Linked DNA regions of Homo sapiens. The protein of the gene in region 1 interacts with the protein of each later gene in a pairwise test. Each region holds a gene or a part of one and is shown on either strand. Other genes may lie near its edges.

Evidence for each region. Proteins that work in one complex are often made in the same cells at the same time.
Region 2: the proteins of EPS8 (region 1) and SLC27A4 interact in a two-hybrid assay, tested with the Homo sapiens proteins (one large-scale study listed by BioGRID and IntAct).

The regions. Positions count from the first base shown.
Region 1 is NC_000012.12:15,778,563-15,783,802, forward strand, and holds part of EPS8 (epidermal growth factor receptor kinase substrate 8), read right to left. Parts: intron 1-5,240. UniProt on the Homo sapiens protein: Signaling adapter that controls various cellular protrusions by regulating actin cytoskeleton dynamics and architecture. Depending on its association with other signal transducers, can regulate different processes.
Region 2 is NC_000009.12:128,356,452-128,360,413, reverse strand, and holds part of SLC27A4 (long-chain fatty acid transport protein 4), read right to left. Parts: intron 81-3,962; coding exon 1-80. UniProt on the Homo sapiens protein: Mediates the levels of long-chain fatty acids (LCFA) in the cell by facilitating their transport across cell membranes. Appears to be the principal fatty acid transporter in small intestinal enterocytes.

The sequences.
Region 1 (5,240 bases):
AGATAAACACTAAAACAGTAAGGACAACTCAATCTGAAGATAGGGTTTCAAAAATTCACATTCCTGGATTAAAGAATAATATTTGTAAACTCCCAAACACATATAGTTTGTCATAAAACAGTTGAAGTTTTGAAAACACACTGCAAAGAGAAATTGGAGATTATGTACGCATGCATATAAACATAAACAAGCTGTTCATGCCTTTATGGGGGGAATAAAGGTAGTAAATCTACTTAAAGGTAGTGTTTTCATTTCTTCCATATATGAAAGAAACTATCAAATGCAGAGTTTGCATGCCCAGGCAGAAAATAAGTCATCAATTTACCAAGTTACTCACAAAATTAATTTCAAGAAATCCAAGTCCCCAAAAAAGAAGGCAAACCAAGATTTTAAAATGTAACAGACTTTTTCTTTCTTTCTTTCTTTCTTTTTGAGATGGAGTTTCACTCTTGTTGCCCAGGCTGGAGTGCAATGGCGCCATCTTGGCTCACCACAACCTCCTGCCTCCCGGGTTCAAGCAATTCTCCTGCCTCAGCCTCCCGAGTAGCTGGGATTACAGGTATGTGCCTCCAAGCCCGGCTAATTTTGTATTTTTAGTAGAGACAGGGCGTCTCTATGTTTGTCAGGCTGGTCTCGAACTCCCAAACTCAGGTGATCCGCCTGCCTCGGCTTCCCAAAATGCTGGGATTACAGGCGTGAGCCACCTTGCCCAGCAAAATGTAACAGACTTTTCACTAGCAAAGCAGTTAAAAGTATCTTCTATCTCTATCATCAAAAGTATATCTTTCTTTAAATTCTAAAAGAGCACTTAAAATCATCTTATTGTACATTCAGGTCTAAAATTACCATCAACTTTAAATGTCAAAATTATTGCAGAAAATTAGATAAACTGTAATCAATGTCTTCTCAAAAGAGACAGATTTTACACATATTTTTATTTGCAGCTTTGTTTTTCCACTTCAGATACTGGAAACATTCTATTGTTGCATTAAACCAACAAATATCTCAATAATATACATGTATTTCTATAATAAGGAATAACTTAGTAATATTCTAATGGTGTTAACAGAAGATAATTCAACAGCCCTCAATAAGGGACTTGAAAAATGTTTCTCCCTCATTTAAGTACAAACTTCTCTTCCTTCTATCAATCTTTTTTCTCACTATTTTTTCTTTCTCTTTTTCTTCTCCCCTTATATTAAAAACACAATTTTTCAATTATAGAACTCTGATCTCTTATCAAGCACATAATTCATTTAACAAGTTATTTTTTAGTACATTCCTAAATAGTATGTTTCAGGTTCTGTTCAGAAACTATGGCTTAGAATTTTAGACAGGCTTAAACAGGACTAGATCTGGCTTCATAGATTATTACATTCTTTTGTTGCTATGCTACTAAATGTAAGAATGGTTTGAAACAGGACCTCCAATTTCACCCAAAAACATGCAAGTTCTCTTTCTTAAATTCCATATAATCACTTGAGTATCACAGGACTGAAAAAGAACACATGAATTTGTTTGCTACATAAAGAGCTACATTTAGAAGGCCATGTGACTAGAAGAGAAGATTTATGCAATTCTTAAACAGGTTTGGTATCTTTATTCTCTTCTGCTACAATGTAATGAATACTCTATTGTATTGTTACTTACAAAAATGAAAAATAACTGCTCATTCAGTTCTTTCTAATACTCCCGTAAGCTCTGAATGTGGGAATGTGCAGAATTTCCCACCACTCCCATCATGCCAACCTATTCCGCACATGTCAAACATGCTCATCTTTCTACCTGGAGAGAGATGAGCGTCTCGCTTTGCCTCAAAAATTCATTCTATGAGACTCAAACATCACCTTCCCCAGTAAAGACTTTTCTGACTCCCTCGGCCACAGTGAGGCTCTCCTTTCTGCTATGTGCTGGGATAAACACACACACACACACACACACACACACACACACACACACACACACACAGGCATACACACTTTTCATTTAACATCCTCCATGGATAATAGTACCTACTTGACATTTCCACCTCTTTGATAAGAAAACCAAGGCAGATAAGGTCTGATTCCAAAGTCCATTGTTTGTTTGTTTTTTAATATATACTTCCTTCAGCTCCACACTGTACTAAAACGGGTGTCTGGCTGCCTCCATTCTCTGAGCCTTCTGACAACAAAAGGCAGAGATCCTGTCTTACTCATCTTTGTATTCCTGGTGTCTGGCACAGAACAGATACTCAACAAACACTCGATAAAAGATGAATGAATAAACAAATGAAATGTAGTAATGCTCAACTTCCTATGTGAGGAAAACTCATGCCCTTTTAAGTATTTATGTAAAAATATGATAATAAGTGCTAATTTCATTCAGCAAGCCTTTTGTGAGTGTGTCATATGGCTGACACATATGGTCATATGTTGGCCTTAAATACATCAGGGAACTTAACTGACTCAGTTCCCTGCCCTTGAGAAGCTTTAAATACAATGAGGGAAAGAAAGAAATAACTAGCTAATGCTACCATTATTTGCTTTATTTTGTCTAATTCCCCACAAATGTTTCTTTTTAAAAGATCCTCATTCTTTAAAACAACCGTGTTCCATCACCACATACCTCTGGTCAGTAGGATACAGATGAGTCAACAGAAAACAAAGCTAGAAGAATCTTTGTGGAGCTTAAATACACAAACTTTTTCGCTATTCTTGTTTGGCACAGTAGTAATTTGAGCAAGTATATAGCACAGTATTAAATAAAAGAATGTAATTAAGGACACTCTGGCCATCCTTGCCCTTTTTCTTTAATAAGGGCAGCACAACCAAGTGGAAAGGGCATGGATTTTGGAGTCAGGTCAGGGTTCTCATCCCAATTCGGTCCCTTTCTCCCCATGTGTGACACAAGTCACTTTTTCTTTCTGGGCCTATTCCTTTATCTGTAATTCTGAGATAAAGAAGCATGCCTTAAAGGGCTCTTGTAACAGTGAAAGAAGATAATGTATGTAACACCTGCCACACAAAAGGTACTATTATTATGTGAGCTGCTCCACCTGCTTCTTGAAGACTACTGGTTCTAACTTTAGTGCAACATTATAAATATTTCTAATCCTGTCCTACTCTGTTTTCTGTTGCTTATAACAGAATACCTGAAATGGGTAATTCTAAAGAAAAGGAATTTATGTCTTACAGTTATGGAGGTTAAGAAGTCCATGGTCGAGGGGCTACATCTGCTAAGAGCCTCCTTGCTGGTGGGGACTCTCCAAGAATCCCAGGACAACAGAGAGCATCACAGGGCAAGGGGGCTGAGTGTGCTCATGTGCTCACTCAAGTCTCTCTTCCTTTTCTTACAAAGCCACCAGTCCCACTCCCATGATAACCCCTTAATCCATTAATTCATGAATGGATCAATCACTTCTTAAAGGCCTCACCTCTCAACACTCTCACATTGAGGATGAAATTTCAACATGAGTTTTGGAGAGGACAAATATGTAAACTATAGTACATCACAATATCAATAACACAAAATGTATACCAAAAGAGAGGTACATTTGACTTTTGAAAAGCCAGGTTTGAACTACATGGGTCCACTTATACACAGATTTTTTTCAATAAATATATTTGGAAAAATTTTTGGAGATTTGTGACAATTTAAAAACACTCGGGCTGGGTGTGGTGGCTCATGCCTGTAATACCAGCACTTTGGGAGGCCAACTTGGAAGAACTGCTTGTGCCTGGGAGTTCAAAACCATCCTGGACAACACAGAGAGATCCTGTCTCTGCAAAAAATAAAAATAAAAATAAATTAGCCAGGCCTGGTGATACATGCCTATGGTTCCAGCTATTCAGAAGGCTGAATGGGGAGGATCACCTGGGCCTGGGTGGTTGAGGCTGCAGTAGGCCCAAGATGGCGCCACTGCACTCCAGCCTGGGTGACAGTGAGACTCTGTCTCAAAAAATTTTTTTAAATAAATAAATACAATAAAAACACAGACAAACCACGTAGCCAGGATAACAAAAACATTAAGAAAAAAGTTAGGTATGTCATGAATGCATAATATGTATATAAATACTAGTCTACTTTATCATTTTATGGTAGTAACCATAAAATTTATTAGAAAAAATTAAAATTTATCAAAACTTACACACACACGATACATAGTATCATTCGCGGTCAAGAGAAATGTAAACAAATGTAAAGATGCAGTATTAAGTCCTAACTGCATACAATTAACTGTAGTACATACTGTACTACTGTAATAATTTCATAGCCACCTCCTGTTGTTATTGCAGCGAGCTCAAGTGTTGTGAGTAACCGCTTAGTCCACTGTGTGATGTTAATCATCTCTGCGTGAGCAGTTCATCTCTCCGGTAAATTGTGTATCACAGTAAAAAATGATTTCTTGGTGTTCTCTTGTATTTTTCATCCTGTTTGGTACAATACCATAAACCTTGAATGAAAACGTGCCACTAGAGATGCCAGAAATGCTCCCAAGAAACAGAGAAAAGTCATGACATTATGAGAGATAAAGTTGAATTGCTTGGTATGTACCATAGATTGAGGTCTGCAGCTGCAGTTCCCAGCCCTGCCCCTCCATTCCCCCACCTTTTCAGAAAGAGGAGTCATCTGGTAAGCAAACAAAAACTTACAATATCAATAAGTACAATACAGTACTGGATTTTCTCTCCCTTATGGTTTTCCTAATAAAATTTTCTTTTCTGTAGTTTATTGTAAGAATACAATGTAATATACATATAATATACAAAATGTGTGTTAACAGACTGTGTTATCAGTAAGGCTTCCAGTCAACAGAAGGGTTACTAGTTAAGTTTTTGGGAAGTCAAAAATTATACAAAAATTTCTGACTGTGCAGGGGTCAGTGAGTCTAACCGCTGCACTATTGAAGGGTCAACTGTACTTGAAAAAAGTCACTTGTAGCAGGAAGAATAGCATGGGAAAAGATTCAAGACCACATAGTTAAGTCTCAGATTTCTAGCTGGTGCATACATCAACTGCCTCTTCTCAACATACACCCTGCAAATCCTTTATTCCAGATCCTTTTTGTGAAAAATCAAACTATTATTCCCTATGATAAGATCTAAAAGAACTGACAGATGTTACTCTATACTAACAATTCCATTTTCACAAAGAAGCATCTCTGAGTTAGTAAAAAAAAAAAAAAAAAAAAGAGGAAAATGAATTATGTACAATGTCTAGAAATAAATCTCAGCACACAGTACATGCTGTATTATATA
Region 2 (3,962 bases), on another chromosome or scaffold:
TAGATAGAACAGCGGGTCTTTCACAATAGCCGGGTCAAAGCCCTCCTTCCGTAGCTCTGTCTTCTGGAACTTGTAGGTTCCTGGGAGAGCAGGGAAGAAGACTCAGTGCAGGGCAGGGGCCCGAGCTCCCAGCTTCCCAACCACCAGTACTGAGGAAGGCAGGGAGCAGGGCTGGAGGACAAACAGGGGAGGGAAGTGGGGGAGGAGGCACAGCCCTTTACAGTTTGCAAAGAATGGTCATACAGCAGCTGTGGCAAAGTTGGGGCATGGGGACAGCTGCTAGTTACCCACCCACCCCTACTTTGCAGATGGGAAAACAGGCCTGGAGAAGGGAGGCTATTTGCCTAGTGTCACATGCTGAGTGACAGCAGAGTGGGGACCAGAACGGAGGTCTTCTGACTGTGATGTCTCCCTTTGAGTACCTACCAGGTAACAGTGTGAGCTTATTTCATCTGTACATCAGCCCCATAAGGCAGGTGCTCAACCGTATTCTCTGGATTCTAACACGGACGTGCTTGCAGATTTTAACATCTCTGAACTAGTATAATTAGCAGCACATATTTTCTTACTCGTACATAAAAAATTCATGGTATTTTTTTCTTTTTTATTGAGACAGGGTCTCACTCTATCACCCAGGCTGGAGTGAAGTGATGCCATCTCAACTCACTGCAACCTCCACCTGCCGACCTCAAGTGATCCTCCTACCTCAGCCTCCCAAGTAGCCAGGACTATAGGTGTGCACCACTGTGCCTGGCTAAGTTTTGTAATTCTTTCTTTCTTTCTTTATTGGAGACGGAGTCCTGCACTGTCACCGGGGCTGGAATGCAGTGGCACGATCTTGGCTCACTGCAACCTCGGCCTCCCGGGTTCAGGCGATTCTCCTGCCTCAGCCTCCCAAGTAGCTGGGATTACAGGCACCCACCACCACGCCCAGCTAATTTTTTGTATTTTTAGTAGAGACGGGGTTTCACCATGTTGGTCAGGCTGGTCTCGAACTCCTGATCTCAGATGATCCACCCTCCTCGACCTCCCAAAGTGCTGGGATTACAGGCGTGGGCCACTGCGCCTGGCCAAGTTTTGTATTTCTTGTAGAGATGGGGTTTCGCCATGTTGCCCACCCAGATCTTGAACTCCTGGGCTCAAGCGAGCTACCTGCCTCAGCCTCCCAAAGTGCTAGGATTACAAACATGAGCTGCCACGCCTGGCCGCATCTTTCAATCAATGGTATTAATCCTGTACAGATGAGAAGACTGATGCTCAGGGTGGTAGAACTGGGATTGGAACCTGGATGAGACAGACTACCAAAAATGGCTGCAGATTCCTCCCCTCCCTGTACACACACACCTCTGCTATGTGGCTTTGGCACTTCTCCTGGCAAGAGCTCGACTTTTTCAATCTCCATTGGCCTCAATCTGGACTGGCTTTACAACTTGCTTTAACCAACAGAAGGTGGCAAAAGCAATGTTGTAGGAGTTCTGGGTGAGTCTAGGCCTCGGGGGACCTTGCATCTTCCACCTCTACCTGCTTGGGGGTGCCCTGGGGCTAGTCTAGCCTTCCAAAGGGTGAGAGGCCACGTGGAGCAGAGATGAGCCATCCCAGGTGAGGGCCCAGACCGGCGCCGTCCAATATGACCTCATGTGGCTATTTACATTTAAATTATTAAACAAGGCCAGGCATGGTGGCTCACGCCTGTAATCCCGGCACTTTGGGAGGCCAGGGTGGGCGGATCACCTGAGGTCAGGAGTTCGAGACCAGCCTGGCCAACATGGCAAAACCCCATGTCTAATAAAAAAAATACAAAAATTAGCCAGGTGTGGTGGCACGTGCCTGTAATCCCAGCTACTGGGGACGCTGAGACAGGAGAATCACTTGAACCCAGGAGGCAAAGGTTGCAGTGAGCTGAGATTGCACCACTGCACTCCGGCCTGGGCGATAGAGCAAGACTCCATCTCAAATAAATAAATAAATTTAAGTTAATTAAACAAAATTTAATCCCAAAGTGTTGGGATTACAGGCGTGAGCCACGGCGTCCAGCCAGCAGCCACCTTTCAAGTGCTCAGTAGCTCTGCCAGGCTAGTGGCTACTGTGTTGGACAGCAGAAACCTAGAACATTTCCATCGCTGCAGAAAGTTCTGTTGGACAGTGCTGCAGAGGTAAGCAGCCGAGAGCCAGACACGTGGGTGAGGCCATCTAACTGCCTCTTGCCCCAGCTAAGTTACTAAGTGATGACCCCAAAGCAAGGTCAATAGAAGAACTGCTCAGCTGCACTTAACCCCTAAATTGCTTACCCACAGAATTATGCATCAATAAACTGGTTGTTTCGAGCCATTTTGGGGCAAGTAAGTTTGGGGGTGGTTTGTTCTGCAGCAAAGCCCATCTGAAATACAAGGTCTGAGAGCCTCCCTGCCTTTCCTGGACAGAAGTATGGTGCTGCTCAATCCTCCGGAAGCTCATGGTCTTGGCCATTAGCCTGGCCACAGTGTCTCCAACCTTCAGAACCACACTGAAGTCCTAAACCCTCCCCGATGCTTTAGGCACTCCAGGTACCCACTCTCTGGCAGAAGCCACATTGGCTAGGGAGTGCCCACCATCAAGGCAGGACTGATATGACGACAACGTGGGAGGTGGCCAGGGAAATGTGCTCCAAAGGGTGAGCAGCCAGGGAGGGCCCAGAAGAGGCACCAAGGGCTGAGGAAAGCAGGGGCAGGTATGGGCATGAGCCTCAGCATTTCCTGCCCACCAGGGAACTCTTGAGAGCCACCAATGGGCCAACAGATAGAAAGATGGTGCTGCCTTGTGGGCGACTGCGGGCCCGCTGCCCACCTCCCACCTGGACAACTGCAACAGCCCCTCCCTCGTCTCCCAGCTCCCTCAGGGCTGCCTGCAATCCTCTCCCACTCCGTACACAGCAGCCAGAGAGCTTTGTAGAGCATGAGTCTGACCAGGTTCCCACCTGCTAAGATGCTTTTTTTTTGAGACAGAGTCTCACTCTGTCGCCCAGGCTGGAGTGTAGTGGCATGATCTCAGCTCACTGCAACCTGTGGCTCCTGGGTCTCCTGGGTTCAAGCAATTCTCCTGTCTCAGCCTCCCGAGTCGCTGGATTACAGGTATGTACCACCACGCCCGGCTAATTTTTTTTTTTTTTTTTTTTTGAGACAGAGTCTCACTCTGTCTCCCAGGCTGGAGTGCAGTGGCACGGTCTCGGTTTACTGCAACCTCCACCTCCCAGGTTCAAGTGCTTCTCATGCCTCAGCCTCCCAAGTAGCTGGGATTACAGGCGCCCACCACCATGCCTGGCTAATTTTTTTTTTTTTTTTTTTGAGACGGAGTCTCACTCTGTAGCCCAAGCTGGAGTGCAGTGGCGTGATCTCAGCTTACTACAACCTCCACCTCCGGGGCTCAAGCGATCCTCCTGCTGCAGCCTCCCAAGTAGCTGGGACTACAGGCGCCCACCACCATACCTGGCTAATTTTTTTGTATTTTTGGTAGAGACGGGGTTTCATCATGTTGCCCTGGATGGTCTCAAACTCCTGAGCTCAGGCAATCCATCTGCCTTGGCCTCCCAAAGTGCTGAGATTACAGGTGTGAGCCACCATGCTCAGCCTAATTTTTTTATTTTTATGTTTGTATTTTTAGTGGAGATGGCATTTCACCATGTTGGCCAGGCTGGTCTCGAACTCCTGACCTCAAATGATCCGCCCACCTTGGCCTCCTAAGTGCTGGGATTACAGGCGTGAGCCACCACGCCCAGCCAGCTAATTTTTATATGTTTAGTGGAGACGGGGTTTTGCCATGTTGGGCAGGCTGGTCTCGAACTCCTGACCTCAAGTGATCTGCCCGCCTTGGCCTCCCACCCAAAGTGCCGGGATTACAGGCATGAGCCACTGCGCCCGGCCTTGCTGAGATGCTTCTGTGGCTCCCTACTGCCCCCGGGACAGTCCCGACTCTTACCCTGGCCTGCA